Linked DNA regions of Homo sapiens. The protein of the gene in region 3 purifies or fractionates together with the protein of the main gene of each other region. This does not show direct contact. Each region holds a gene or a part of one and is shown on either strand. Other genes may lie near its edges. The genes, in order: NCKAP1, BRK1, NHSL3 and NCK2.

Evidence for each region.
Region 1: the proteins of NHSL3 (region 3) and NCKAP1 purify together in Homo sapiens (affinity purification with mass spectrometry; 2 studies listed by BioGRID and IntAct, with this or other methods). This does not show direct contact.
Region 2: the proteins of NHSL3 (region 3) and BRK1 purify together in Homo sapiens (co-immunoprecipitation; 2 studies listed by BioGRID and IntAct, with this or other methods). This does not show direct contact.
Region 4: the proteins of NHSL3 (region 3) and NCK2 purify together in Homo sapiens (affinity purification with mass spectrometry; 4 studies listed by BioGRID and IntAct, with this or other methods). This does not show direct contact.

Annotation. Positions count from the first base shown.
Region 1 is NC_000002.12:182,923,458-182,931,212, reverse strand, and holds part of NCKAP1 (nck-associated protein 1), read left to right. Parts: intron 1-424; coding exon 425-518; intron 519-2,313; coding exon 2,314-2,430; intron 2,431-2,986; coding exon 2,987-3,096; intron 3,097-4,307; coding exon 4,308-4,397; intron 4,398-5,394; coding exon 5,395-5,511; 3' UTR 5,512-7,755. UniProt on the Homo sapiens protein: Part of the WAVE complex that regulates lamellipodia formation. The WAVE complex regulates actin filament reorganization via its interaction with the Arp2/3 complex. Actin remodeling activity is regulated by RAC1.
Region 2 is NC_000003.12:10,117,932-10,125,686, forward strand, and holds part of BRK1 (protein BRICK1), read left to right. Parts: intron 1-7,694; coding exon 7,695-7,755. UniProt on the Homo sapiens protein: Involved in regulation of actin and microtubule organization. Part of a WAVE complex that activates the Arp2/3 complex. As component of the WAVE1 complex, required for BDNF-NTRK2 endocytic trafficking and signaling from early endosomes.
Region 3 is NC_000001.11:32,737,308-32,745,388, reverse strand, and holds the start of NHSL3 (NHS-like protein 3), read right to left. Parts: upstream 3,560-8,081; 5' UTR 3,435-3,559; coding exon 3,200-3,434; intron 1-3,199. UniProt on the Homo sapiens protein: Able to directly activate the TNF-NFkappaB signaling pathway.
Region 4 is NC_000002.12:105,739,938-105,748,293, forward strand, and holds the start of NCK2 (cytoplasmic protein NCK2), read left to right. Parts: upstream 1-4,974; 5' UTR 4,975-5,201; intron 5,202-5,668; exon of another isoform or gene 5,669-6,402; intron 6,403-8,356. UniProt on the Homo sapiens protein: Adapter protein which associates with tyrosine-phosphorylated growth factor receptors or their cellular substrates. Maintains low levels of EIF2S1 phosphorylation by promoting its dephosphorylation by PP1.

The DNA.
Region 1 (7,755 bases), on a different chromosome or scaffold from region 3:
ATTTATAGATACGATATGATTAGACATTGAACCACTATAATTTTTCATTAAACCACTATGGAGATAAACACAGGTCTAGTAATATTGATTCACTTTGTTCATTTATTCATCTTTTCTGACTTGATATTTTATATTCATGCTTCCAAGCAAAGTGATAACTTTAGAATTATCCTGTTGGAATGTGCCACAGAAAGTATACAAGTTTTGTTTGGCCTAGCAGTAGGAAGTTAGAACCAGCAGCACCTCACAGTATTCAACCTACATTGAATCAGTTGTTCAGTATACTTAGTTTTGCTGTAGTTTCTGCTTCAGCCAAGTTTCCGAAATTCTCTGGTGTTCTTCTAGGCAGACTCTAATAAACAGTGAGCTTTCTCAGAAATTTGTTAGACTATTTATTGCTCTGTAATTCTTTTGTTTTTATCAGGTTGCAATGAATGTGTATGAGTTATCATCAGCTGCCGGATTACCTTGTGAGATTGATCCTGCATTGGTCGTAGCTCTTTCTTCACAAAAATCGGGTAAAATGCATTAGTAAATATTTAATACTCTTAGTTAAAGTTACCAGGGCAGCATAGGTATAGGTATGATATTTAACCATATATTCAAATGCCTGCTTTGTGTTCAGCTTTTTAAATTTGTTATTATTATTGCTGGTACTTGGACTATATCAGTGCATAAAACACAAACATCACCCTTCTGGAACTTAAGATTGGTTGAGATTACTGAGCCATTTAGTGTATATAGATGCAGCAGTGAAGAGGATCCAGGTCTGAGCCTTGAGCCATTCTAAGATTTAAGAGCTCAGGGAGAAAAGGAAAAACCACGAAAAAAGAAATTTAGAGAAATTGAGAAGAAAGGACCAATGAAGTAGAAGAAAAACCAGGAAAGGGTAGCTTCCAGGAAGATAGAAAGGAAATGATCAGCTATGTAGAGTTAATTGGTGGTACTAACAAGATCAGTGTCAGTGAGGTTTTATGGGCAAAAGGCTGAGTAGTGAGTAAGGGAGATTAAGGGAGAACAGGAGGAAAGGATTTGGAGATAACTAGAAGACAACTCAAAGAGTTCTATTGTAAAGGGAAGCAAAGAAATAAAATCTCACCAGCTGGAGGCAAGAGCAAAGTCAAGAGAAGGATTTTTTTAAGATGGAGGAGATTACAGCATTTGTATGCTAATGGGAGATGGTCCAGTAGATAGCAAAAAATTGAGATCTAGGAAAGGGTATTCTGTTTTTATTGTACTAGAGTTATTCACCATCAAGAGTTTTATATAAAACATTTAGAAATTTTTAAGACCAGCCCTTAGAAATGCAGTACTCAGAATCCTGTAGATATTTCTTGATTTGTCTACAAAGTAAATATAGCATTTCATCTCTTTCTACTACTAAAATGCCCCTTCTGCCTCCTTGAGGCAGCAGCATGGTGTTTGAGTTCATCAGTTTTTTTTTTTTTTTCATTTAACAATGCAATTTTGTTTCCTCATTCATACAGTATGTTACATTTAGTCACATGGATAATTATAATTATTACTTGATTTGCTACAGCTGTATTTTTTGTAGTCGACCAAATCTTTAAAACATATTTCAGCTCTTTTCTTACATTCAATTCTTAATTATATCTAATGGTGATTAGTAGCCTAAATAACCCACAATTTGAGTGCATATCACAATAAATGTTTTAGAAAGGGTTATGTCTTGAAAGCTTTAGAGCAATGCTGGGTATTTTTATTCATGACTAGTTTCTTCTGTCTTCTTCTGTCTTCTTTTATTCATGACTAGTTTCTTCTGTCTTCTAAAATAGAGAGGTTGAAAACCCATTCCACTTTCCACATTTATGTCTTTTAAATAGTAAATTTCAAATTATATTCATATCTCTTTCAAAAAGTAATTAAGATTTTTTTGGTGATTTTGCAGAATAATTTATAAGTTTTCTAAATTGTAAATAGAACTGTCTCATAAAGTAATAATTCCTCATTAGTTTTCAATTAGGAAATTGTAGGATTGCAGTTATCCTAACTGTATTTTTTGTTCTATAATCTTACAATTAAAAAAAATAAAATCTTACCTTACTGTTTTATCAGACGTCCTTGAAATATGCCTAAGTAGTTGATAATAGTCCATTGTAATATAAACTGTTTCTACTTTATATTTTTATAACAAAATTGTGACCAATTCTATAGAATGCTAGTAAAATAGTTTACTATTTCAAAAAAAAAAGTAAACCATTTTTAAAATAAAAATCTGTTTAGTTTAGATTATCAAATCTTAACTAATCTTGAAGAAATACCTTGATTTTATTCTTAATTTTTGTCTCTTAGAAAACATTAGTCCAGAAGAAGAGTATAAAATTGCCTGCCTTCTCATGGTGTTTGTGGCAGTTTCTTTGCCAACACTGGCCAGTAATGTGATGTCTCAGTACAGCCCTGCTATAGAAGGTAATAGTGGTTTAAAATTGTTTTGGCGATGAATAAATCATGGGTTTTGGTATTTTATAATAAAATATGAGTTAAGTTCTGCCACTAACTGGCAGTGGAACATGGGGTAGTCTGTTTCCCTTTTCCTAAACTGCAGTTTCCTGATATATGAAATGTGTGTAAGTAAGCTCATGTGTGCCTGAATGTGTGTAGAGGTCGGTGAGGGATTATCCAACTCATAGGATTATTTTAAGGATTGAATGGTAAAATGTTGTAAAGCAGCTAAGCACTTCCTTTTTATTTCCGAGCTACTATAAAACTGATGTGTGATTTCTTTTAGATGTTTTCAGAAGTGTTTGCCTGTTTAACATATACACGATCGTTTGTTACTCTCCTGTTAAACTAGTTTTAAAAACATCAGTGTTCATGAAAGTCAAAGGAGAGCAAGTCCGGTCATGTCCCAACTCTACTCTTAATTATGCCCCTATTTATGCAGATTGTGAAGTCATTAAAGATTTGCCTTCTATGTATTATTTGCTATTTTGGGGTCTACACAACCCTATTTGCATTTTCTCAGGGCATTGCAACAACATACATTGCTTGGCCAAAGCCATCAACCAGATTGCTGCAGCTTTGTTTACAATTCACAAAGGAAGCATTGAAGACCGTCTTAAAGAATTTCTGGCGGTATGTATAATCAAATAACAAAACTCATCACATTTTATAAAGAAAACTAAAATTCACAACCACAAAATGTAAGAATAAATTCTCTTTATTTTTACATTTTATTTAGTGTCCTCTAATGGCATTTTGTTTTCAAATTATTTTCTCAGGTATATGAATTTCAGTCTCCTTTTATTTTTATTTGTTTATTTTCTTTTTTGGAGGGAGAAACAGGTGAAGGTGGGGCATTAAAATCGAGGAGCCGTCCGTTATTTCCCTTAGACTCGGAAGTCTCTTTCCCAACTCTAGAGCTCTGCAATATGACCTTTTTTCCCCAAGCTGATGTTTGGACTGCCCTAGAAATTTTCCTAGGCTTGAAAGAGAAAAAAAGCAAAGGAAAATTGAGGCCAAGAGAGAAGCTATTCCCTCTAAAAAGACATATTTTACTTTTTTCCATTTCTTTGGAGAAAGACAATTAATGGTGAAAAATTCATCATTAAAAATACTACTCACTACCAAGAGAGAGGAGTGCTAAATGTAGCCTCATGAAACATGGTTTTTAGTTTCTCTATCAATGTAGTTCTTTCTTTTCTTTATTAATATAACCTTTTCCATATTTTATTTAAACGAAAGATATACCATGGCATACTGAACTCTAGAACATTTACTTCTTTTTCAGTTATAAATCCTGTCAGCTTTTTTAAAAAATAATTTTTAAATTACAAATGCAAATATAGTACTAACTTGAGGAGAAAATAACTTCTATTTCAAGGAAAACACTATTAAAAATTTTAAGTGTTTCTTTCCATTTGCAAATAATTCCTTCACTCAGGGTTTAATGTCTTAATCTTACAGTGTTTCTGTGAAGTCAAATCCAGTGTGAAACTGTCTTCTTCCTTGGGAACTAAGAAATATAGTCAGTATAGATAATGGGATGGGATAAGAGAAAATAATTTGAATCATTTTAAAAAGCAGACTTGTTCTGAAAAAATCAGTTTTAAAGACCAATAAGAATATTTGATTACATTTATTATGTTAGTGTCTCTTTGTGCCTTAATTACTCTCTAAATTACTGCTTGAATGTAGGCTATCTAAGCTCATCTTATTTAATTGCTCATTATTTTATATTTAGCACTGAATGATTGAAATGTGTTGGAAGTTGAAACATACCTAAAATAAGTAACCGATGAACCTTTTATTAACAAACTCACTTTATGTGTATGTATACTTTTAAGCTTGCATCCTCCAGTCTACTGAAAATTGGCCAGGAGACAGATAAAACTACAACAAGAAATAGAGAATCTGTTTATTTACTGCTAGATATGGTAAGTCTCATTTTAATTTTTACTAACAATAAAAAAGTTCCAGTCGTTCCTGAGAATCTTTTCTTGGCATCTTAGTCATTGAATACTTTTTTTGATCCCTTTTGTTCACTTCACGTAAGCCACACCTTTCTAAAATTTGCAGAGAAGACTGACATCACTCATATTTTATCATTTCGGTAATATCAGAAGATAACAATCAAAGGTTAGCATTAACTGTGGGTATTCTTTTATGAACAGTTTTTCAACCTGTTGGAAAACACTCAGGCCTTGTATTTTTCTAGTGTATTGGTGTCACCTCTCTTCCAGTTTTCTGAGTTTTCTACATTCTAACTCTATTCTGCCCATTTCTCGTAATTTTCTGTAATTCTCTGTGCCTAGTCACTTCCCTCTCTGCAGTATCTGTGAACCAGCTCTTGCTTGTTTCTACCACGTGGCTCTTTCCCCACTTAGAGTTATTTTCCTTACCTGCAGAAATTGGATTTATCCTAATGACTTAGCACATCCCACAGCTCAAATCTTTTTCCAGATAGTCTTTCTTGATTACTTTGGCCTACATTAATCTTTCTTCTGTTTTGAATTCTTACAGAATTTACAGCTTTCCATTTCATTATAGTCGGTCTTATGTTTGGTTTTGCTTCCTAGCTTAGTCTTTGATTGCCAGGTAGAGTTGATAGTACAAAAAAAAAATATTTTTGTATTGTCTTTTATTTCTAGTATATCAGTGAGGAAAATGAAAGTGCTCAATATATTCCTGTTGATTAAATAAATTTAATTGAAAAGTAGCTCTTTTTAAACAGTTTGATATACATTCACTGTGGCACATTTACATTTTAGATTAAGTAAAAGGAAAATAATATGTGTCTATTGCTAATAAGAACAATATAGAAGTTATGCCTTACTGGTTGTCAATAAATGTTCCCATTATAAATAACTTATGATTTTTGTTTATAAACAAGTTATAAATAACTTGTTTTGATGGATTTTTTGAATTTTACAGATTGTACAAGAATCTCCATTCCTTACAATGGATCTTTTGGAATCTTGTTTTCCTTATGTCTTGCTGAGAAATGCATACCATGCTGTCTACAAACAAAGTGTTACATCTTCTGCATAAAATTACCTACTTAATCAAGATAAGCACGCATTTTTGTTGCCTTGGTTTTACCTGTAGACTGTGGAACTATTTTACCTTAAGACCTGAAAAAGTTTTGTGGATTATAAATTTCTTTCATACGGTTGTATTTTCTGATCATTGGTTTCTTAATATGGTTGTACTACAGTATACTTGGTTGATTTAGGTTGCACATTCACTGAATTCACTGAGATTATTCCTATAATTTTAAAGTATCATTTATTTGAAAAACATACATTATCAACATGTTTTTGATATTTGATAATGAAAAAAATCTTTGCTTGTTTATTTCTGAAAAAGAACTGTATTTAGTGATTATTTTAGATAGTGATATTATAGTATTCATCTGTGTGTAAATTATTTCATATAGGGAAGAGTTCTGATCTGTACCTATGGTTCTTATTGAAAACAACATTGGATGTGCATTTCTGTGATGTTATGAATACATTTCTACTTTATTTTGAAACATTTGCCAAACTAAATACTGTAACACTGTATAACATTTAAAAATGTTAAAGAACTGCTTAGTATTAGAAGCAGATCATTTCCCAAAATTCTAAGAGCAGCAGCATATGTTGTTGCTTGTATAAAGCCTAGCGATAATTTTTAGACTAACTTCCATGGTGCCCTGTTGGCATTAGCACTACCATTGTACCCTGCTGTATAATAAACAATCTTAGACATTTATCAACTGTTGATACAAATGTTAGTCCCTAACCACTTTTTATATATGTTTTAAATTTTTGAAATTCAAGTGTACCTGCCATAACATAAAATAAACACTAGACTGTATCACACTTCGATTGATTTCTTTAAGATCCTTGGATATTCGTTCAATAATAATAAAGTTTTTGTTTAAACTTAGTTTGAAATATAAAAAATAATGGTTTAGGAATGTCTAAGTACAGCATTCGATACCAGGTCAGCTATTATATGATTTGTTTAAATGTTTTAAAAAACATTTTATTGAAAAAAATACCAAAATTAGAAAATAAAATTACACAATACTTCTTAAAAATTAAGAACTTAAAGAAAACTTGTATGCTGTCAACTTGCTCATTTTATCTGTAACCAAATAGAGTTATTTAAAAGAATAGGGAAAAAAAATTGAGTGATCATGGGACTAGTGAGAATGTTGAGAACTGCTGCATTAGTCAGTAATGAATGGGAAAGACATAAAAGGGCCTATTGCTTAATAGTTGGCATGGAGGGCAAAGCAGCTCATTTAGTTTGAAAACTAACCCAATGTTTTGCTCTTTGATTGGCATTGTTGAGGCTGTTTCTCAGCAGCTTTGTATATGAATATCATAAAGAGCTTCTGTTCACAGCTTCTTATGTATACACTGGTAACTTGTGTTAAGATAAAAGAAGGCTGCTGTGAACTCAGTTATAATGTTTTTCTTTCTTCAAACATAGAGAGTAGAATGAAATTGAAGTACTATGAGATTATGCTATTATTTTGTGTATGATTTGTCCAGCCTATATTTAAAGTAGGGAGTAGTTGTCACTATCTGTCGAAAAATTGTACTTGTTCCATAAAGATTTTTTAAAAAGGGAAATTTTAAAATGGCATAGTTCAGACCTGAAATAGTCTGATTTACACAGTGAGCAGTCAAAACTAAGATTTAATGCCGTTTGTTTTGAAATATTAGGATCTTAGAGAGGTAATAACTTTGTTGGCAGTGATCTCTGGAGAGGTAAAGTAGGAATTTGGATATGTACACTTTGGAATCATATGTGAAAGGGCATAAGGATGAAAATAAGGCATTCTCTACCACTGCTAGGCTGAGAAAAAAATCGCTCCTCATAGTCACCTGAAGTTTTTGTCCAAATTTTTTCTCATACAGCAAAGGCGGGGGAGGAGGCGTGGCAAAGGTAACTTGGAGGAAAAAGTTAAAAGTAAATTGACAACTACTATTTTTAATATCTTGTTTGTTTTATTTTCTTCTAAACTTACACAACAACATACTATTTTTGTTGTTTTCTCTACATTAATGTGATCATACCATACATACTGGCCTGTAATCTGCTTATTTCACTCAGTAGTAGAAAAAATGTCTTTAATATTCTTTTTAATACCTTTATAGATACCATAACTAATTTAACAATTTCATGGCCAGGCGTAGTGGCACACGCCTATTTCAGCACTTTGGGAGGCCAAGGCGGATGGATCACTTGAGGTCAGGAGTTCAACACCAGCCTGGCCAACATGGCAAAACCCTGACA
Region 2 (7,755 bases), on a different chromosome or scaffold from region 3:
AATTTGACTTAGCAGTTAGGTGTACCTGAGGCAAGTTCTTAAAGATTGGCATGGTGGCTCATGCCTGTAATCCCAGCACTTGGGGAGGCTGAGGCGAGCAGATCACCTGAGGTCGAGTTTGAGATCAGCCTGGCTAACATGGTGAAACCCTGTCTCTACTAAAAATACAAAATTAGCTGGGCATGGTGTTGCACACCTGTAATCCCAGCTACTCAGGAGGCTGAGGCAGGAGAATTGCTTGAACCGGGGAGGCAGAGGTTGCAGTGAGCAGGGATCGTGCCACTGCACTGCAGCTTGGGCAAAAGACGAGACTCTGTCTCCAAAAAAAAAAAAAAAAAAGATTGACACTATCACAATGCAAGAGTTTAGAAAAAGACCCCACCGGCTGCGAAACTGGATAAATTAAATTATAAGGATAGACTTGAGTATGTTGTCTTGGTATTGAATGAGTCAGGATGACTATGTATGGGATGTTTTTTTCCCATCCTAAGCCATTAGTAGGCTTGTACAATTGTCCCTTGAACAATACATGTTTGAAGTGCATGGATCCATTTACAGGTAGATTTTTTTTTTTGAGACAGATTTTCATTCTGTCACCTAGGCTGAAGTGCAGTGGCATGATCTCGGCTCACTGCAACCTCCATCTCCCAGGTTCAAGTGATTTTCTTGGCTTAGCTTCCTGAGTAGCTGGGACTACAGGTGTGTGCCACCATGCCCGGCTAATATTTGTATTTTTAGTAGAGACAGGATTCGCCATGTTGGCCATGCTGCTCTTGAACTCCTGGCCTCAAGTGATCCACCTCTGTTCAACCTCCCAAAGTGCTGGGATTACAGGCATGAGCCACTGTGCCTGGCCATAAGTGGATTTATTGCGATAAAAGTTATACAGTATGCCTACCTCTCCTGCCTCCCCTTCCACCTCTGCCACCCATGAGGTAGCAAAACCAACCTCTCTTCTTCCCCTTCTTCCTCAGCCTACTCAGCAGGAAGACAATGAGGATGAAGACCTTTATGATGATCCACTGCCATTTAATGAATAGTAAATATATTTCCTTTTCCTAATGGTTTTTTTTGTTTGTTTGTTTTGTTTGTTTTTTTGAGACGGAGTCTTGTTCTGTTGCCTGGAGTGCAGTGGTGCGATCTCGGCTCACTGCAAGCTCTGCACTCGCGCCACTGCACTCCTGCCTGGGCGAAAGAGCAAGACTCCATCTCAAAAAAAAAAAAAAAAAAGAATTTACTTTGAGGCCAGGCACAGTGGCTCATGCCTATAATCCCAGCACTTTGGGAGGCCGAGGCAGGTGAATCACTTGAGCTCAGGAGTTTGAGACCAGCCTGGCCAATATGGCGAAACCCCATCTCTATAAAAAATACAAAAATTAGCCAGGCATGGTGTCTCATGCCTGTAATTCCAAGCTACCTGGGAGGCTGAGGCATGAGAATCACTTGAACCCTGGAGGCAAAGGTTGCAGTGAGCCAAGATCGTGCCACTGTACTCCAGCCTGGGTGACAGAGTGAGACTCTCTCTCAAAGAAAAAGAATTTACTTTGAGGGAGCATCTGAAGTTCTTCAAATATGTTAGCAATTCTGTAGTCCTTACCCTGACCACAGAGAATCTGCATGGGCCATGTATTTTGGAGAGAGAACTGTTGTTCTAAGATAGTGAATGACTTTCTGAAAAGCATTTACCTTGTGATTCCTGCTGGTGAGAGTAGAGTCACAGTCTCCCACGTGAACTTGAGGACATACAAATCGTAATGTAGCAAAAATATCATAACACTAGGCCTATTTTGCACTTTGGAATTGGTGAAGTTTCTAAAAATAGATGGTTAGAGATTATCGCTTTTTATTCTTATGCTATTTTTTTCTGGTTCTAAAGGTAATATATGCAGAGAAGTATAAAGACAAAATAGAGAATGTGGCTGTTTTTTTAAAATCTTGGTTTTTGTACTGAGCCAACAAATGTAGCATGCCTGGTGTGTGTCAGATGCTGTGAGAAAGGAATAAATATGAATAAATGGGTATGATACCCACTCCTAAGACATTCAGAATTTTGCTGGAAAAGTAAGACTTAACTACAAAAACATTCCAAAAGAAAGACAGTTTTTGTTTTTTTTTTGAGACAGAGTCTCATTCTGTCGCCCAGGCTGGAGTGCAGTGGTGCAATCTCGGCTCACTGCAACCTCCGCCTCCCGGGTTCAAGCGATTCTTCTGCCTCAGCCTCCTGAGTAGCTGGGACTACAGGCATGCGCCACCACGCCTGGCTAATTCTTTTTTTTTTTTTAAGATGGAGTCTTGCTGTGTTGCCCAGGCTTGAGTACAGTGGTGCAATCTTGACTCACTGCAACCTCTGCCTCTTGGGTTCAACTGATTCTCCTGCCTCAGCCTCCCAAATAGCTGGGATTACAGGCACACACAACCATGCCCAGCTACTTTTTGTATTAGTAGTAGAGATGGGGTTTTGCCATGTTAGCCAGGCTGGTCTCAAACTCCTGACCTCAAGTGATCTGCCCACCTCAGCCTCCCAAAGTGCTGGGATTACAGGTGTGAACCACCGTGCCCGGCCTGACAGTATTGATTTTTGTAATGCTGAAGTTATATGCATTAAGTTCAGAGAAGGAGCTGTCTGATAACAGCATTTGTTTCCTAACGAGAACTGGTATTTTCAGTTAAAGGCTGGTGATAATGTACACATACTTGTGCTCTGGTTTCAGATTTATCCAGCTGCTGAATGCTTTCTCAGTGTTTTTTATTTGAACCAGCGTATACTTATTAGGATTTGAAATATGACCAAGGTTTCTGCAGTTGAACATTTTCTATTTCTCAACAGTGTTTATCCATGTAGGCCAGGAGCATAGTATTGTTCTTGAATTCTAATTCATTACCAGATTGACAGCTAGAACAGAATAGCCACCCAGGAAGGAAACTTCCCTCTCTCCTACCTCCCCCAATAATTTTCGTATGTCTTCATGGGAAATGGCAGGTTGTCAGAGATAATATTCATGCTCTTACTCAGTAGCATACATAACGTGCTTTCAGACTTCCAAAAACCAGACTGAAAAGAGGCTTGGTCCTGTTGGGCAGTTCCGACAGAAAGTGGCAGTACATCCAGGAAAAGGGGGATGCTGAAGTGATCATACTTAAGCTAGACCTGGGAATTCAAGCAGCACAAGCGTAAAAAGAATGAAGAATGTCCAGAAATGGCAAATCCATAGAGACAAAGATTAGTGGTTCCCAGGGACTGAGGGGTGACAGAATGGGGAGTGACAGGACTAAGAGGTATAAGGTATCTTTTGGGGATGATGAAAATATTCTAAAAGTAGATTATAATTATTGCACAACTCTGTAAGTATACTAAAAACCACTGAATTGTATACTTTAAGCAGGTGAAAGAATGGAAAGTGGCAGAGTTGGGCTGGAGACCTGGGGTATAAATTATAGCCCCGGAGGCACAGAAAGATGATAGTAGTGTGCATTGGGATGCACACAGTATGGGAAAGAATACCAGTGACCCAACATGGGCCCTCAGCTTACCTAGACCTCAGTTTTCCCACTTGTAAGGTGAATAGAGTTACACTAGAGTCAATCTTTTGTTCCACTAATATACCAGAATCCATCTTTTTTTTTTCAGTCAACATCTATGTACCAGGCAAGATGCTAAGGTTACAAGAGGCAATATGTACTTCTTTTGATTAACTTGTTCTAACGGTGAAACAGACATGTAAATAAATTGTAAATTACAAGTACATAAATATCATTTGGTTTCGTAACATGAATATTTTCCTATTTCATTAAATATTCCTCAAACTTTTTTTTTTTTTAAGACAGAGTTTCACTCTTGTTGTCCAGGCTGGAGTGCAATGGTGCAATCTCGGCTCACTGCCTCAGGTGATCCACCCACCTCGGCTTCCCAAAGTGCTGGGATTACAGGCGTGAGCCTCTGCACCCGGCCACTTTTTTTTTTTTTTTTTTTTTTTTTGAGATGGAGTCTCGCTCTGTTGCCCAGGCTGGAGTGCAGTGGTGCAGTCTTGACTCTCTGCAACCTCCGCCTCCTGGGTTTAAACCATTCTCCTGCCTCAGCCTCCAGAGTAGCTGGGATTACAGGTGTGCGCCACCATGCTTAGCTAATTTTGTATTTTTAGTAGAGACAGGATTTCTTTTTTTTTTGTATTTTTAGTAGGTATGGGGTTTCTCCATGTTGGTCAGGTTTGTCTTGAACTCCGACCTCAGGTGATCCGCCCGCCTCGGCCTCCCAAAGTGCTGGAATTACAGGCATGAGCCACCGCGCCTGGCCACTTGTAACTTTCAATGGCTATTTTAATAGTCTCATTAATACGCTATATCAAACCATTCCAATCATGGGCATTTGGTTTTGTTGCTTTTTCACCATCTTAAATAGTAGTGATGCACATTCTTATTTGTAAAATCTTTATCCAAAGAGGGAAGTCATAACCAAAGACCAAGTACATGAATAACTTACAAATTAGAAATTCAGAGGCTGGCACGGTGCCTCACGCCTGTAATCCTAGGACTTTGAGAGGCCAAGGCAGGTGGATTGCTTGAGTTCAGGAGTTTGAGATCAGCCTGGGCAACAAAGTGAGACCCCCATATCTACCAAAACAAAAAACAAAAAAATTAGCCAGGCACAGTGGCATCCACCTACTGAGTAGTAATTGCAGCTACTCGGGAGGCTGAGGTGGAAGGATCACTTGAACCTAGGAGTTGGAGGGTGCAGTAAGCTATGATTGCAACACTGAACTCTAGCCTGGGTGACAGAGCAAGACCATGTCTCTTTTAAAAAAAAAAATTCATCCGTAAATGTTTAGATAAATACAGAAGAGGAAGAATTATTATGTCCATCTGGCAAGACCTCTCAGAGATAGAATTTGAACTTAGCCTTGAAGGAGATAGGCAGGCAAGATGAGTAAGATTTGGACATAATAAGATGAAAGTTGAGGCAAGATCAGGGTGTAGGAAGATTTGTCAAAATGGATGCTGAAGCGCTTTTGCAAAACAGCCAGGGAATAGATGAAAAGGAAACTTGTTAGCTAAGTGTTAAATCATTGCGTGGGAGAGTCTCAGCGAATATTTCAGACTTGAAAACTGAAGTTTATTGAGAGATGACTGAACAACAATGTTGGAGGAGAGAGTAGAAGATAATGACCATGCTAAGATACCTTTTCTCTCATATGTTGAGAATAGTTGGAAAAAGAATAGTTCCTGTTACAGAAGTTTGCAGAGAAAAAGTTGTTTTAAATTAAATCTGGTTTCATTTTGAATGAGATGGTAAAAGAAGATTGGAAAAGCTAGAGGAAGAAGAATAATTTTGGCTGTTTTCACAGATGGAATGTGGGCTTTATCGGGTATTTGATGCTCTCCAACTTTTCTCTAGTTCTGAAAGGCCTTTGCCTCTAGGAGCAACAGTAGTGACATGGCTTTAATGAGCTCAGAACTCTCACACCTTCCCTCCCCATAATTTCTGCTGCTTTCTTGGCCTCTACTTTCTTTCCTTTTTTTTTTTTTTTGAGACGGAGTCTCACTCTGTTTCCCAGGCTGGAGTGCAGTGGTGCAATCTCGGCTCACTGCTACCTCCATCTCCCGGGTTCAAGCAGTTCTCTGCCTCAGCCTCCCGAATAGCTGGAATTACAGGCGCCCGCCACCACACCCGGCTAATTTTTTGTATTTTTAATAGAGACGGGGTTTCATTGTGTTAGCCAGGATGGTCTCCATCTCCTGACCTCGTGATCCACTGCCTTGGCCTCACAAAGTGCTGGGATTACAGGCCTGAGCCACCGTGCCTGGCCTTTTTTTTTTTTTTTTTTTTTGAGATGGAGTCTCACTCTGTCACCCAGGCTGCAGTGCAGTGGTGCAATCCCAGCTCACTGCAACCTCCGCCTCCCAGGTTCAAGTGATTCTCCTGCCTCAGCCTCCCGAGTAGCTGGGACTAGAGGCACCCGCCACCACACCCAGCTAATTTTGTATTTTTAGTAGAGATGGGGTTTCACCATGTTAGCCAGGCTGGTCTCAAACTTCTGACCTCAGTTGATCTGCCCACCTTGGCTTCCCAAAGTGCTGGGATTACAGGCGTGAGCCATCACGCCCAGCCTCGTTTCTTTCCTGTTGAGATTATTTTCTTATTCTTGCCATGTCCCCTCTCTTGAAAGTCTTAGTTAGGCCATTAGTAAATGGCTGTACAGCCTTGGTGTATTCATTTGCTATTCCTGGCATAACATATTACCACACAGGCTGGGCACAGTGGCTCACACTTGTAATCTCAGCACTTTGGGAGGCCAAGGCGGGCGGATCACGAGGACAAGAGATTGAGACAATCCTGGCCAACATGGTGAAACCCCGTCTCTACTAAAAATACAAAAAAAAAAAATTAGCTGGGCATGGTGGCGCACACCTGTAGTCCCAGCTACCTAGGAGGCTGAGGCAGGAGAATCGCTTGAACCCGGGAGGCAGAGGTGGCAGTGAGCCAAGATTGCGTCACTGCACTCCAGCCTGGAAACAGAGTGAGACTCCATCTCAAAAAAAAAAACCAAAAAAACAAATTACCACACATTTTGTGGCTTAAACCACATACATTTATTATTTACCATGTGTAGGTCATAAATCAAACACTGGTCACTGGGCTAGCAATCTTCACACCTTGGCCAGCAGTCTTCACACCTTGGCCTTCTGAAGTATTAGGATTACAGGCATGAGTCACTGCTCCTGGCCTGGGCTCCAATCAGGGTTTCAGCAGGACTGCCTTCCTTTCTGGAGGCTCTAGGAGAGGGTCTAGTTCCTCGAATATTGGGTTGTTGGCAGAATTCAGTTTCTCGTGGTTGTAGGACTGAGATCTCTGTTTTGTTGCTGGCTGTGAGCTGAGAGTTGTTCCCAGCTTCTAAAGGTCACTTACATCCCTTGGTTCATGGCTCCCTTCTTCCACTTTCAAAGCCAACAATGGCAGATTGCATCCCCTTCACACTTGGAATCTCTTTTTCTTCTTCCATTTCATCTCTGACCCCCTTCCTATGCCTTTCTCACCTACATTTGTGGACTATGATTAGATTGGGCCCAAATGGACAATCCAAGACAAACTCTAGGATCTCAAGGTTCTTAACCTTAATCATACCTGCAAAGCCCTGTTTCCTCATGTATAATCCATATTCACAGGATCCAGGGATTAGAGAAAGGACTTTTTTTTGAGACAGAGTTTTGCTGTTTGACCCAGGCTGGAGTGAAGTGGCGAGATCTTGGCTCACTGCAACCTTTGCCCCCCCCGGTTCAAGTGATTTTCCTGCCTCAGCCTCTTAAGTAGCTGGGATTACAGGCATGTGCCATCATGCCTGGCTAATTTTTGTATTTTTAGTAAGAGACAGGGTTTCATGATGTTGGCCAGGCTGGTCCCGAACTCTTGACCTCAGGTGATCCACCCGCCTAGTCCTCCCAAAGTGCTAGGATTACAGGCATGAGCCACCGTGCCCTGCAGGAAAGGACGTTTTTGTGGGGCCGTTATTCTCTACTTGCAACACTTGATAGGAAGTTCAGCAGATCCACTCTAAGCAACTGTGCTATGAGTGGATCTTAGCACTGTATCCATTTCCATTTGTATTCTGTGTATTATTCCTCTTTTTCATTGTAGGTGTTGTGTGTGTCTGTGTCTGTGTTTGGAGTGACATTAATCCTGAACACCAGTCTCTTTTTCTCAGATATGTCTTGTCGTTCAAGACTTGCAACACTAAACGAGAAATTGACAGCCCTTGAACGGAG
Region 3 (8,081 bases):
ACAGGGTTTCACCATGTTGGTCAGGCTGGTCTTAAACTCGCGACCTCATGACCCACCCACCTCAAACTCCCAAAGTGCTGGGATTACAGGTGTGAGCCACCACGCCCAGTCAAGCAAAGTTGTTCTTAGGCCCAGAGCCCATTCCTTCCAGACTGGGTCGTTAGAGCTCAGGTGACTAAACTTATAAACACAGGCATAGCAACCCCTTGCATTTCTATGGTTACTTCTCTTTAATATAATTTTCTTTTTTTTTTCTTTTTTTTTTTTCTGAGTCTCGCTCTGTTGCCCAGGCTGGAGTGCAGCGGTGCAATCTTGGCTAACTGCAACCTCCGCCTCCCGAGTTCAAGCAATTCTCTTGCCTCAGCCTTCCGGGTAGCTGGGACTACAGGTGCACGCCACCTTGTCTGGCAAATTTTTTGTATTTTAGTAGAGACGGGGTTTCACCGTGTTGCCCAGGCTGGTCTCGAACTCCTGAGCTCAGGCAATCTGCCCGCCTCGGTCTCCCAAAATACTAGGATTACAGGCATGAGCCACCACGCCCAGCCTTTAATATAATTTTCATATGCTCTCTTGTGAGAATCTTGGTGAGACAGAAAGGTCACAGCCCATCAAGGCAATGTCCAGCCAGAGGATTCCCCCTTTCTTCCCCACAAGACAGTGGTGGAATCAGGGAGCCCACTGAGAAGTTGCTCATCCTACATCATGGGGCTTGCTAGTAGCTGGGCCAGGATTTAAACTCTCATTGGCCTGATTCTGATACTCTCCCCACTCTATCAAGTTCCCTCACTTCTCTCTCTGGGCCATTTCCCATCTGTAAAGTGAGTTGAACAAGAAGATCTTCAAGCCTTACCTGCTGCTCTATGTCCTTGGGAGAGTCATGAAAACAGTCCCGATTTTTGAGGCAGGTGATTTGAGTTTAAATCCGTTTGGTCAAATCAGTCACTCACTGTCCCTGAGCCTCAATTTTTTCATCTGCAAGTAAGATCTTGACATATTCAGACTAATCAATAAATGTCAGACTTCCTCTCTTCTTCTAAGTTTGTGCAGGGTAGTGAGGTCAGCAAGGGAATCATGGAAGACTGGTGCTCAAAACTCCATGACAAGCTCAGTTTTTCCATCTTAAAGTAGGAGAGTCAGATTAGAGGAATCAAGACCTGCCTCTCATAGGTCTTTGAGCCAGAGATTGGAATGGAGGAGATAATGACTTCCCCAGCAAAGATCCCTGACCTCCCAGGAATCTCCTGTGTATCCCTCCTCCCCACCTCTCCCAATCTCCATTCTGAACATTCTCCCTGAAAGAGTTAAGCCTTCTGCAGGCTTCCCGTTCCTGGCCAGCGTTGCCAGTGGAGATTAGTGGGATCAGATTTATTTCTCTTAATAAACAGAAAAGAAGTTGGGCCAGGCAGGTGACAAGGAAACAGTTGCAATAATAGGAGGCTGGAGTAAAAGGGAACAGGACTTCCTCCAGTCATACCCAGGGCCACCTCCAGACCTGGAGAAACAACAGCCAGGGGCAAGGAGGTGTTACCCATGCACGTGGGCTCAAATCAGGCCGACATGCTGCCCAGAAAGCCCAGAGCCACCTGATACCAAACACAAGGCAAGAGGGAGGCCTGGCCACTGACCCAATGAACCCAAACCCAGGCTGTTGGAGCAGTGACCTACAGGCTCAGCTTTTCCAGCCCCCTGCCTTCCAGGCTGGTCTCCCAGAGGAAAAAGGTCCATTGCCCTGGAGTATACACTGCTAGTCCACTAGCCTTCTGCCTGCCAATCCTGACAGTCTGACCACAATACATCCTGCTGCAATGCCCTCTTGAATGAGACGGGGATGACTTCAGACTGAATCCCAGTGGGGCAGCCCTGGGACAGACTCCATGTCCTGTTAGGACTGCAGAGGCTTTGGAAACACCCCTCACCCAAATCCAGTCCTCCCTCAGGGTTTGGCCCAGTCACCCCAGCCCCAGCACCCTCACTTCTATGTGTGGCTGTGCCGCAGGGAAGCAGGGCCCTTATCCAAAAGGAAGATCAAGCCGGATACAATCACACATGAGGCTTTCCACCCTCTTCCTGACCCCTAAAGTGTTCCTTCTAACTCTCCCAGAAGAGGTGGTTAAAGGACACTGGGAGGGTAAACACAGGCAGAATGGGATGGGCCCGCACACCCAGCCATTTCCTCACCTCCAGCACTGCAGCAGCAGTCTAGGAAAGGTGGACTTCCCAGGACAGCAAGCCCCAAGGGAGCTCCACCCTCTTGCAAAGACTCAAGCCCTCCCCATCAAAAGGAAGACAGAAACTGGAAAATGAGGGAAGGCCCAAGAAAGGAACTGAAAATGACCCCAGCAGGGATGGGCCAGGTCGGCTTCCCCGCCTTTCAGGCTGCCCGTCCAGGCCAGAGGAGGAGCCCAGGGACTCAAATTCAGAAAGACTGAGAATTAGCTGTTGAATTTTAAGTACCCACCCCAGCCCAGGTACAGCCTCTCCACTGAGCTTGGGCCTCAGTTTCCCCCATCTGTAAGCACACTTCCGACACTGGCATGTTTCTCCAGGGCTGGAAGAAGGAGTGATAGGGAGGGGCGGGTTGGTTCACCTTGGTGAGCTCACTACCCCAGGAGGTGATGTTTGTGGCCTGGCCCAGGTGAGCGTTGAGGGAGGCCAGGTGGGAAAAGCCAGCACTGTTAAGAAGCTAAGGCAGGGCACACTGTGCTCCATGTGAGGTCCTTTGTGGGGCTGGAAATCCAGATCCAGCTGGAGCTGAAACTCTTTGTGAGTGCGGTTGACCTTCCAGACCCAGAGGGTCCCCACCAGAGACCCAAGGCCACCTGTCTCTCCCATTGGCCACAGGCCAGCGTTAAGTCTCTGACCCCCTGACTCAGCAGAGGGCAGAACCTCGGTGAGCCTGGGGGAGGGGGAATCGCCTCACCGCCCTGGAGTCGGGCTACCAGCACTTCCTGCTCTGCCAGGGGATCCCTGCCCCAGCCGGGGGTCCCCTCCCCTCACAGCGGGGCAGGACTGGGTCTGGAAACTGCGGAAGGCAGCGCAGGGTGGAAGTGTTCGGACTCAGCCCTGGCCTCTTCGCTTTCCAGCACCAGCTCCTGGGGGTCACCCCCCTCCAACACGCCGCGCGCGGACCCCCGGCAGAGCCCCCTCGGCCGCACCCTCGACGCCCCCCCGCGCTCAGCCCAGGTGCCGACCGCCTTACCTCGGCCTTTGCCCTTGGCCCTCTTGGCCTTGTCCTCCGCCTTCTTGGCCCGGGGGGCGGCCGGTTCGGCGCCCTCGGCCCCCGCCGCCTTCTTCTTGCGCCGCTTGCCCCGCAGCCAGCTGAAGGCGCGGCGGAGGCCGGACGCGCCGGAGCGGGACTTCTTCCTGCGCGGGGGGCCGCCCGGGTTCCCCGGCTCCTCGGCCGCAGGTGCGGCGGGGGGCGCGCGGGCCGCCATGGCAGGCGGGGGCGGAGCGGGCGGCGGGTCAGGCCCCCTGCGGCGCGGTGCCCATGCCGGGGGCGGCCGCCGGGGACGCGCGCCCGGAGAAAAGTTTGGGCGGCGGAGGCCGAGCGGGCGCGGAGAGCGGACGGCGGGAGCGGCGCGGGAGGGGCCGGCCGAGCGGCGGGCGGGGCGCAGGCCGGCGGGGAGGGAAGGAGCGGGGCGGGAGCGGCCGCAGGGCGGGAGCGCCGCTGCCTGCGGCCCCTCCCCGCCTCCCCCGGTCCCGGCGGAGGGCGAGGTCCAGTCCCGAGAGGAGGGGGTCCCGGGAGCCCGGGGTCGTGCCCCCCGCTGGGGCCCGAGAGGGCGGGTCGTGGGGCCGCCCGGGAGGGGGCGGCACTGAGGTTCCGTCCCGCAGGGGGCACCGCGGGAGATCTGTTCGGAAGAGGGTGGTATGGGGTGGGGACGGAAAGGGGAAGGGCGCAGGAAAGGAGGAGCGAGAGGCTGGGGTTGGACCCCAGGAGACTTGGTATCCCAAGTTTGGGCTGGGAATAGACAGGGGATTCTGGAATATTTTTTCCTGGAATAAGGGAATTTGGAGAATTCCTTCCAAGCCCCGACAGTGTTGGGGCGCTTGCGCCAGGAATAGAGGCTTCAGACACGTCCAAGACCTGTGACCCGCAGTGGGCATTTCCCTCCCATCTGCTGACTGGGGTCGCCTCCTCGCTCTTTACCACACCTTCCAGGCTCCAACCATCTTCGGTGTGCAGCGGGGGCCCAGGTCCACTGTGTTCCTGCCTCACCCTTTGGTGGCAAGATGAGGATAGCCCTTCCTCCGTTTACCCTTGGACTAGGATTTGAGGCCCCAGGGCACTCCTGCCTGGACCAGGAGTTCCCACTGAGATGCTCAACACTAATTAGGGTTGAACTCTGGGCAGGTGAGAGGTGTGACTGGGAGGCTGGTAGGAAAGGAAACATTAAGAATCCTGAAATTGCTGTACTCATTGCCTACAGGCCTCTGGGTCTATTACAGCTGACCAAGCCCTTTTATATCATCTGATCCCACGACAACGGAAATGGAGGCCAGAAGGGGACAGAGGTGGTCAGCGGGAGAGGAGCCAAGATGGTCATCTGGGTTTTGTCTCAGGCTGGTCCAAGGCTTCAAACCCTAAGGACTAGAAATTGCGCTGGGGACCAGCTGTGGGTTCAGCACCCTTGAACCTCCTCCGTCAGTCCCCAGAAGGGCCTTGTGATGTCCATACCAGTGGGGTGGCCAGAATCACCCAATCTGACTCTGGTCACACGGCTTTCTCTTGGTCCTGGTCTCCACGAGGGCAGGGGCCCATTTGTCTGGGCCACCCAGCCCAGTCAGCCCCGGCGCACTGTAGATAGCACTCACCATAACATTGCAGGATTACTAGAGTGCAGTGGGATCTCCCTAACCTGCCTTAGCCCCCTGCATGTCCCCAGGGGCTCAGCTGTGGTGAACCTGGGACATCATTGACACTCTCCCACCTGGGGGCCCTGGGGCAGACCACCCAGTGTCCATGCTGGGCCTCAGTTTCTTGTCTAACCACCATTCATTCAGATCCAGCCCACAATCCCAGAGCACCCATTCTGGATCAGGAACCAGCCCTGTACTCTGGGTGCTCTTGGCCCAGCCTAGCACTCCTAAGAACCCAGCCTCTTCCTCTGTTAGTTGGTGAGGAAAGGGAATGTAGAGAATGCAGTTTTCAAGAGAAAAGTGTTACAGGTGCCAGGCATGGTGGCTCAGGCCTGTATTCCCAGCACTTTGGGAGGCCCAGGCAAATGGATCACCTGAGGTCAGGAGTTTAAGACCAGCCAGACCAACATGGTGAAACCCGGTCTCTACTAAATACAAAAACTTAGCTGGGTGTGGTGGTGCATGCCTGTAGTCCCAGCTACTTGGGAGACTAAGGCAGGCGAATTGCTTGAACCCGGTAGGCGGAGGTTGCAGTGAGCCAAAATTGCACCATTGCACTCCAGCCTGGGTGACAGAGCGAGACTCTGTCTCAAAAAAAAAAAAAAAAAAAAAAAAAAAAAACTTATTAAGAATTTCAAGGCCTGCCACAGTGGCTCATGTCTGTAATCCCAACACTTTGGAAGGCCAAGGTGGGAGGATTGCTTGAGCCTAGGAGTTCGAGACCAGCCTTGGGCAACATGGTAAGAGCTCATCTCTCCAAAAAAAAAATTGTTTTTCATTAGCCAGGTGTGGTGACAAGTGCCTGTGGTCCTAGCTACTCACTCGGGAGGCTGAGGTGGGAGGATCCCTTGAGCCCAGGAGGTCAAGGCTATAGTGAGCCATGTTCGCGCCACTGAACTGCAGCCTGCGAAACAGAGTGAAATCTTGTCTTTTTGTTGTTGTTGTTGTTTGTTTGTTTGTTTGTTTGAGACTGAGTCTTGCTCTGTCGCCCAGGCTGGAGTGCAGTGGCACAATCTCGGTTCACTGTAACCTCCACCTCCCGGGTTCAAGCGATTCTCCTGCCTCAGCCTCCTGAGTAGCTGGGACTACAGGCGCCCGCCACCACGCCTGGCTAATTTTTGTATTTTTAGTAGAGACGGGGTTTCGCCATATTGGTCAGGCTGGTCTCGAACTCCTGACCTCAGGTGACCCACGCGCCTCGGCCTCCCAAAGTGCTGGGATTACAGGCGTGAGCCACTGTGCCTGGCCTGACTTTGTCTTTTAAAAAAAGAATTTCAAGAGGCAATAGCAGGCCGGGCAAGGTGACTCACGCCTGTAGTCCTGGCACTTTGGGAAGCCGAGGCAGGTGGATCACAAGGTCAGGAGTTTGAGACCAGCCTGGCCAACATAGTGAAACCCCGTCTCTACTAAAAATACAAAAATTAGCCAGGCAAGGTGGCAAGCGCCTGTAATCCCAGATACTCGAGAGGCTGAGGCAGGAGAATCACTTGAACCCAGGAGGCGGAGTTTGCAGTGAGCCAAGATCACGCCATTGCACTCCAGCCCCGGTGACAGTGTGAGACTCCATCTCAAAAAAAAAAAAAAAAAAAATTAGCCAGGCTTGCTGGCAGGCGCCTATAATCCCAGCTACTCAGGAAGCTGCGGCAGGAGAATCACTTGAACCCGGGAGGTGGAGGTTGCAGTGAGCCGAGATCATGCCATTGCACTCCAGCCTGGGCGACGAGTAAAACTCCGTCTCAATAAAATAAATAAAAATACAAAAAAACTAGCAAGGCATGGTGGTGCTTGTCTGTGGTCCCAGCTGCTCGGGAGGCTGAGGCAGGAGAAACGCTTGAACCCAGAAGGCAGAGGTTATAGTGAGCCGAGATGGTGCCACTGCACTCCAGGCTGGAAAATAAGAACAAAACTCCGTCTCAAAAATAAAAATGCCGGGCACGGTGGCTCACGTCTGTAATTCCAGTACTTTGGGAGGCCAAAGAGGGCGGATCATGAGGTCAGGAGATCGAGACCACCCTGGCCAACATGGTAAAACCCCGTCTCAACTAAAAATACAAAAATTAGGCCAGGTGCAGTGGCTCACACCTGTAATCCCCGCACTTTGGGAGGCTGAGGCAGGCGGATCACCTGAGGTCGGGAGCTCGAGACCAGCCTGACCAACATGGAGAAACCCTGTCTCTACTAAAAATACAAAAATTAGCCAGACATAGTGGCGCATGCCTGTAGTCCCAGCTACTCTGGAGGCTGAGCAGGAGAATCGCTTGAACCTGGGAGGTAGAGGTTGCAGTGAGCCTAGATCGTGCCATTGCCCTCCAGCCTGGGCAACAAGAGCGAAACTCCATCCCAAAAAAAAAAAAAAATACAAAAATTAGCCGGGCATAGTGGCGGGTGCCTGTAATCCCATCTACCTGGGAGGCTGAGGCAGAGAATTGCTTGAACCCGGGAGGTGGAGGTTGCAGTGAGCCGAGACTGTGCCACTGCACTCCAGCCTGGGCGACAGAGCAAGATTCTGTCTCAAAAAAAAAGAGGCAACAGCAAAACATTCAACCAAGCACAGAGCCTTTCTGAGCATGGGCTATGCATAACTACACAGTTTGCATGCCTCTGAAGATAGCCCTGCCAGTGTCTCATATAATTCCTCAGGGAAATTCCCCTCAAACTAGAATTTCCAGGAATCAACCCACAGATTGGATCCTCTGATTTGCAGGTAGGGAGAGGAAGAAGGGAAATGAGGAGAGTTCAGGGTTATATTCCCTTCACTGCTCCTGACTCCAGCACCCAGAGACTCTCACTTCTCATCCCCAGCCCGGACCACCTTCAGACCAGCAGGCCCAGCTCTCCCTCTTGCCCCCTGGCCTAAAGGACAGACATGCTTCTGAGCCACCCAGGGAGGGCTAGCCTAGGAAGAGCTAGCCTGTGTCTCAGCTGTAGCTGGATCCGGCTCCCTGGAATAATGATTGCTCAGCTCAGCTACATGTCTTTGCTGGCCTTGCAGGCAGCGGAGGGAGCTGACTTCCCAGCAGTCCCTGTGGATAGGGCCCAAAGTTCAACCTGGAGCCAGGCTGTCACCTGACCAGGAAGGAAACTTCCAGCCTGTCCCCAGGGAGGAACCAGCAAAAACCAGGCTTGGGGCAGCATCCTAAGGGCCCTCCAACTTTGCCCCTCTGTTTGGGGAAAGCCCAGGACCACCCTGATGTTGCCCTCACACACACCAATCCCCCTTTCCA
Region 4 (8,356 bases), on a different chromosome or scaffold from region 3:
TCATTTTGAGCCTCCCCTTCCATTTCTCCTAAAACACTTTCCCATCTACTCATTCCACCCCAGTTGGGGTTATGAACTCTCTTGGAAATGCGAACTTTTGTCTGCTCTTCCTGTCTCCAGCTGTCCTTCCGTGCATGCACCAAATGAGTGTTCCTGGGCTGAGCCCAGATGATGTCCACACTTAACTGCTTTCCTTCTTGGCCTCGCGATCCGCTCTGTGCAGCCTCTGCTCCATTTAGGCAAGTGGGCCATTCTCTGTCCCTACAGGGTCCTCCCACGTCCCCCTGTCTGCCTCAGAGTTCTGAACTCCTGCCGCTGGGAATTTTCTCCCTGTCTATCTCCACCTTTCAAAATCCTACCATTTGCATTATTCAGGGGTTTGGGTTCCAAAAAGAGGAAGTGCCTCTGGGTACCTTAAGCAGAATAGGAGAATTTACTAGAAGAATATCAAGTAGCTCACAGGGGAACTGGAGAGCAGAAGGGGTGAGAATGGAGCTGGCTAATTCCTGTGGGAGGGATGTGCTGGGACTATTTCAGCCATGGCAAATTGAATCTCACCCTCTCTTGTCCTTTTCACCCTCTCCAGTTTCACAGTCTTGAGTGGGAGGGTTCCATTGGCCAATCCCAGGCTGTTCACTCTCACAGGGCTTCTGGGAATGGAGGGACCAAGGTGCCTACTCTGCCTCCCTCCAGGGTTCAGACAGGCTTCTCTAAAACCAGGAAGGGGCTAGAGAGGGGGGCAGCCAAATTAAAGGCAGCTTCCCACCATGTAATCTCTCAAGGTCATTGCCAATGCCACCACCTTTCATAAAGCCTAAAGCTTCTCCTGATTCTCTAGACATATTTTCTTTGGTACTGTTCATATTTAGTTTTATATTATAGTTATTTGTATGCTGGTTTCATCCTTCCTTTTGGGTCTTTCCTCTCCATTTCTCCTAAACTATTTTCCCATCCTTTCACTCCACTCCAGTTTGCGTTATAACCTCTCTGAATAATGCAATCTTATATCTGCTCTTTGCACATCCAGGTGTTCTTTGGTGTCTGCACCAAATGAATGAATCCTGAAGTGGATCTTATAATGCCTTACAAATAGAACTACACCAGATATGCTTAATTGAATTGAGGGTTACAAGAGAAGGTCATGAGAAAGGAGACATGAGTGTTTACCATGTGCTGAACACACAGTTGAGACATGTTTATATTATCTCCTTTAATTCTCACAACGCTTTGCAAGAGCACTATTAATATCTGAGGCTCAGAGAGGTGAAATGACCCCAAGGCACAGGCTCCAAGGTAGGCTTTGAGCCTCTGACGTATGACTTGGACAACACCCTCAACCTTGCTTTGTGTTTTCCGTGAGTCTAAGGAGGGGTTAGAGAAGGCCTTGAATGGAGCTCTGAAAGAGAAGGACGGGGACAGGGAATTCCTAGCTGCCTTCACACCACAGAAGGCTGAAACTAGTGTGACTCAATGTGGCACTGTGGGCAGAGCTGAGTGACTGAAGCAAACAGCTTATACTGGACAGAGGTAAAAAGGAGATTGTATGGCAGGGCTAAGTTGGAGAGGCCTTTGGAAGAGAGATCATAAGATGTAATGCTGATGTGATTTTAGGCAAAAGTTTACTGCACCTCCTTCCACTCCATGTTTTTTATGCTTTCAATACTTTGTGATTGAAGACAGTAAAACAGATGTGGACACATTAATGGAGTAGAATGCAGAAAAACCTATATATTTTTAGATAAAACATAAGCTTCAAAGAAATGTCTCCCCCATGTTAAGCCTTGCAGTGGGTTGGATGTTGGCCCCAAAAGATATGTTCACCTGGAAGCCGAGAACGCGACCTTATTTGGAAAAAAGGTCTTTGCAGATGTTGTAAGATAAGGATGTCGAGATGACATCATGCTGGATTAGAGTGAGCCCTAAATTCAATGATACTTGTCTTTACAAAAAGAGAGAAGGGAAAGGACACAGGGAACCAGGTTGTGTGAAGACAGAGAGGCAGAGGTGGGAGTGACACTGCCACAAGCCAAGGAATGTCTGCAGCCACCAGAAGCTGGAAGAGGCAGGGAAGGATTGTTCTCTACAGACTTTGGAGAGAGGCTGGTGTCTTGATATCAGACTTCTGAACTCCAGAACTTTGAGAAAATAACCTCTGTTTTGTCACCTAGTTTGGGGTCATTTGTTAAGGCAGCCCCAGGAAACGAACACAGGCCTCTAAGGGCTAAATACCCCAGCCTCTCTGGGGGAAAATGCTCAGTCTTCAGTCATCAGATAACTTTTGAGGAGACTGTGGTGGGCAATGGGGAGCCATGAGAAGTTCTTGAGCACAACCAGGGACAAATGGAAACAATTTACAGGAAGGTTAGGATGACATTGATGTCCAGTGTGAGTCTGAGGGATTTAAGAAGGAAGTAATGGGAGACCAGTTGGAAGGCAGTAGTTGTGGGGAATTGAACAAGAGTTTTGGAGTCAGGTACATGCTCTGACCCCAGTTCTTTGATCCACTGTTCAAGTGATTTCATCTGTAAAATGGGTATAATACTATTGTGTGTGGATTAGAGATGATATATGTCAAGAATTCAATCAAGGTACATTATAACTATTGCTAGAATGATGTATAAGTTAGGATGCCAGTGATGGAAATGGAAAGAAAGGTGCAGTGGAAAAGATGTTTAAGAATCACCAGGACTCAGAACCATGGGGGTAGTCTGCAAGGGGTCTTGGTGTCATTCAGCGCTCTCCCAGCTTTTCTTGGGGAGAACTCGGAGAGAGGGAAGGAAAAGCCAAGATAACAATGAGATTTCTCCCAGGAGCTGAGGTGCCTGGTAGACTCTTGGCCAGGCCTGAAACCATGGGAGGAGGAGCTGGTCTGGGGAGCAGATGAGTTTCATTTTGAACATGGTGACCTAGAAGAGATGCTGCGCCATGTTTAGGGGGTGCAGATTAGCTGGGGAGCTCTGCAGATTAGCAGGGGAGCTCTCTAAGGCTACAGGTCTGGGGGTTAATCAATGAAGGTTTAGACAGGGAGTGTACAAAAAACAATCAACTCTCTCTTTAAAAAAAAAAGGTGCGTATCAGAATAAAAACAAAGGGCCACCATCTGCCTTGGGGATATCACTTTTACAGGGTGGGAAGACAACAACCTCTCTAGAGGAGGCAGATGGGCAGGTCAGAAAGGTAAGAGAATCAGAACTGGCTGTGTTTGATGAATGAAAAGATGATGGTGTTTCAGGAAATAGCAGAAATGCCACATATTTCAGAAAACTCCACAGGATAAAGATTGATAAAGGGCCACTGGATTTAGATAGAGAATGACATCGGTGACTTCTAAAGAATCAGAGAAAGAAGAGGCATGCAAGAACCACGATTCAGTGAAAGTTTACAAAGCAAACAAGCTACAAACTGGGTCAATATTGCTATACTTATTTTGAGTAAATTAATCTAAAATTGGGCAGACTGATGACTAGAATTCTTCTTTTCTTATTGTAAAGCTAGATATTAGTAACACAAAACTTGCACAAAAGGATGAACTGAAGTAGCTTCTTTCACAAGGTCAAAACAAGGAAAAATGAGGCTGTTCTGATTCCCTGAGCTTGTACCTGATTCCTGCTCAGTGTACTGTGCTTCCTTCCACTTACTGAGCTATTGAGGGCTACCTACTGCCAGGGTACTTCACATAGGAGGTAAGTAAATATTATCTCCCCATATGACAGATTTTAGAAAGGCTGAGGACCACCTGTGCAACGTTACACAGTTCAGGAAGTCAACAGTCAAACACTCACCTGTCTGACTTCAAAGCTACGCTGACTCTAGTTACCTATCCTTGGGTACTTCCCTTCTGGAAGGAAGCAGGAGATGAGTGAATCAAATAATACAGCCTTGTAACCTTGGGTAAATTATTATTGCCTTAATAGTAAGCAGAGACCAGGAGCCTAAGAAAGAATCTCATTAACATGGATGCAGGCTATCCTGCCAGGAAATCAGAATCATTTGAATATTAGGATTTCCTTTGGGAAACCATATGGGGAGGAGAAAAGACATCCGGATGCATGTGTCTGTGAAAGGGAAACTTGTGTCTTTCCCCTTGCTCTTGGGTTTTCATCTTCCAAGTTTGTTTATAGGCTAGCCACAACTCGAGGCTGGGTGAGCTGAACGGTCCCATCATTAGCGACACTCCTTCTAGGGGCACATTCGGGCAGCTCCTCTTCGGGTTCTGCCCCCACGGGTGTGCAACCAGGATTCCACAGGCTGGGGCTGGCCTGGATGCCTGGGAGGCAACAGAGGTCGAGTTTCTTCTTCTTTTAGGAAGTGCCTCGGACAGGGATGATGGACTAAAAATGTGTCTGGTTGGGAAAGTAAATAGATGCAAAGCAAATAAATAAAAATGCCCACAAGCAATTACAGGGAGGAAGTGACATTTTTATTTAAGTCACTTTTCTGATGGACAACAGGCCTGCTTAGCTGAGTGCCGTGGGAATGCTTCCGGGAGGGGGGCGGCTGCCCAGCAACTAGAGCTTCGTGATAAGAACAACGAACAAACAAAAAAGAGGACGCAAAGCCCACCCGGCAGTCATCCCAGGCTGGAAGTTGCCGTCTGTGTTTTCACTCTCCTCCCCACCCACCTACCCTGCCCCCCACCGCCCGCACGCAATTTCGGGCGTGGGGACCCTTTCCTGCCCCCGGCGCCCGGCCCGTGCTGCGCCTCCAGAGCGGAGCGTCCCGCAGCCCCGCGCTATCCCGGCGCCCGTACCGGGACCCGGGCGCGGAGCCTGGCGACGACGGGGGGCGCCCCAGGTGGGTCTCGGGTCCCCGCCCCGCGCGCCCGGGCCTGGGCCGGCCCCTGGGCGGCGTCACGGCGCGGCCGGGGAGGAGCGCGGGAGGAGGAGGAAGAGCGCGGAGGAGGCGGGCGCTGCGCGCCGGGGGAGGGTCGCCGCCGCCGCCGCCGCCGCCGCCGCCGCTGCCGCGGGGATCGTCAGGCCGGAGCCGCGCGGCCGAGCGGGCGGCGGGCGGAGGGGAGGGCTTGGCGGCCGGGAGGCTCGCGGCGCCCGGGCCGGCAGGGTCCGCCCGGGCCGGCAGCGTCCGCCCGGCGGCGGGAGGAGGGAGCGGCGCAGACAAAGAGCGGCGCCTGGGCGGGCGCAGCGCGGCCACCGCCCCGGGACCCGCGCCGCTGCCCTCCGGCTCCGCGGGCGGCCCACGGCGAGGTAAGCGCGGCTAGGCGGGCGTGGGGCGGGGGCCACAAACTTGGGGCCGTTGGGCGGAGTTGGGAGCGCGGCGGGGCTCGCGGGCCGGGGTGCGCCCGGGAAGGGGCCAGGAGAGCGGGTCCCCTCCGCGCCCCTCCGGTGCTCTCGGCCCTGCCGCGGCCTGGGCGCCCCCGACCGCGGACTGCCGGGCACCTCCCGGCTCTGCACCTTCCTGCCCGCCTTCCCATCCCTAACCCCCACCATCGGGGGCCGGCCCAGGGGCGGGGACGCCAGCCAAGGGCGCGGGCGAGGATCAGGGCAGGGGGCCCGGCTGCGGGGCCCGGGGACTGGAGACCCCCGGGTGCGCAGGCTGCGCCTGGCCTGCAGGCGGGCGGCCGGCACGGAGCTCGGGGCTAGCGTGGGACCGTGCGGTGGCCAGGGTCGCCAGGGCGCGTGTGCCGGGGAAGAATAGCCGCGGATCGCAGGGCCCCGGCGCAGGGACGGGGGAGGCCGCGATCGGCCGGGAGAACTTAACCGTGTTTATTACAACTATTTATGTTCGCGCACAAAGCTGCTGTCACATTGCATAAAGGAGGTCCTCGCTTCGGCGAAGGGAGCTTTTGTGCCCGGCTTCAGGCTCTGCGCCCTGCCCCAGATTTACAGGACTCTAACAGCCACCTGAATGAACCAAAGTTTCTCACAATCGCTCGGCTCTCTCGGTTTTTTTCAGGGCGATTTAATCACCGAGTGCTTTTGGAAAAATTTGATATGTGAGTTTTAAGGCATGGAGGGTAACTGCCTTATGAGCACAGTTAGCTTGGCATTGTGTGGAGGGGTTTAATTTGCAAAACGCTTTAATTTGTAGACAATGGGGATCTCTGTGAAGGTCTGCGGTGGATGCTAGGGGTCATTGGCTGGTGGACCCCAGGCACCTGACTTAAACTAGTATTGTAACAGCTTCAGGGACAAAGCCGAGCGTGCGTGGAGTCGGCCTTGGCCACTTCACACAATTCAGGTTGGCAGATTCCTCTTTATTTGGCTTTGTTTATTTTGCCAACAGGTTTAAGGCTGCTTCTGCCAAGTTTGCATCTGCATAATGGGATGAGCAGGCCCCAGTGTGGGCAGGAGGGGGCCTAAAATATCGCAAGGGCCAGCTCCGTCCCTCGACCCAGAAAGAAACAACCCTGAGAGGCCGGTGGGCGTGGCTTGCTGGGACCTACAGGTAGGGGAGTCCCTTCCTGGCCCAGGCGCAGTCCCCGCTTCTCGGAAGGGATTTTGTGTAGGAATGAAAGTGATTCAGGGTGTTTTTCATGCCTCTGTTTTAGATGTAGTTATCAAGTCTCAAAAGTGACTGAAAATGAAATTAACCTGGGCCGCTTTAACTTACCAAAACGGAACTGTGCGTGTGAACACTCCCTCAATTCACTTTGCAAGCTTCATAGATAAGCAGGTGAATTAGTAACAGGATTCAAGCCTTGCGAGTTTTACGTAAAGAGAATGGCAGTCATCGGACACGTGGAGAAGAAATTGACTTCACCTGGAGATTGGGCTAGACATGGAGGTTTTTTGACGTTTGGAACAGGGGTTTCCTGAGAAGCAAGTGTTAACCTGCTTGTGAAGAAGTGAACACGAGGGAAAATCCTACCTCAGTATATTCTGCCCTGGAGGTTGGTTAGATGTAGTTTTGATTGGAGAAGGTGGCGGAATCTTAGTGGTCTTCTGGCGGCTACTTGAGGCTGAAATGGAGAACTTTAGGCATAGGAAGCTGTGGAGGTGCCTGGCCCACTTCCTGTCCCGGAGGCCTCGCCTGGATTCTGAGCTTCTTTCCTGCTTCATAAACATTCAGGGGGGTTGGTCATGAAACACTGGATGAAATTGGGTCACAAATTGCCATCAGGAAGAGTTGGCTGCTGCATAACCCCCTCTGTCCACTTGTGGAGAAACTGACCCTGTTAACCGTCGGGCTTGCTGAAGGTGCCTTGCAGGTGGCTGTGCTCAGTTTTCATGCTTTGTGTTTTGCTTAGGACACGCTGCATACTTAAATCTTCTTCATCCTTGCTCTGTTTGACCCTGCCATATTCCCAGGCTTTGTCATTTACATTTTCGGTTATTTAGCTTTTCCAACAAACAGCAGATCTTATGTACACAGTACTATATTTGAGAAATGCACTACCATCCATATTAAATACACCGGAAATCTTCCTTGCATGTGCACAGACTGGATAACCTTTTAAAATACCCTAAGACTCCCGGAATGGCGCAGAATGCACTGGAGTCCTTTACTTGATCAGTTGCACTAGCTTAGTTTGCCCTGGATAGACCAGGCTGCGAGGCTCTATGGGACACCCATTTTTCTAACTGCTCAAACTGGCTTGCCGTGTGCACTGGGGGAGACAGGGCTTGCGGAAATCATTCTCTGACATTAAAAATGAGGCTTAAAGACTGAAGAGCTCAGAATTGCTTGCTGGAACTACAGGGGAGGATGATGAGTGATGTTTGGAAAAACAAGTAAGCTAACTTTTTTCACAAATGAACTGGAAACTCCCTACAGCTCACTTCAGATGCTTAGGAAATTAGTTTTCCCATCCAGAGGGTTTGCGAGTGGCACTTCCAAATGGTTTCTGTTTCCTAAAATGAGTGATGGAAATACTTCACGGCACGTTTTCAAAGGGCCTAAGCTAAAATGTGATTTCGTGTATCTTGTTCCATGCCTGAGTTAAGGCAACTCAGAAGAAGGTCGTGACGGCCTTTTAACGGGCTATCAAAAGTGTGCAGCTAAAGCAAAAACAGTTTTGCATTTCTTTAGGCCATTTAGTAGCACAATTAAAAAATTAGACTCTTTTCTTTTCCTGCATTTTCCTTTGAACATTTCCCAAAGTATGTTTATTTCTAAAGGTAAATGAACGTTAGCAAGTATTACCTCTGCCCAGTGACACACATCCACATGTGTACTGGCACATACATTCCTACCTCAAGAATCTTAGTCCTTGAAACTGTGGAAATGAAAGTTATTTTGATTGAGGTAGCAGTGTCACAGTGATGTCATACGGTGTCACTGTCCCTGACCAGCCTCTGTGTTCCCTCTCAACTCCTTGGCTCAGTCTCCTCCGTGTCCTGAGTTCTTACTCATCCCAAGGGTCGTCTCTTACTTCTTTTCTTCCCCACATCTTATCAAC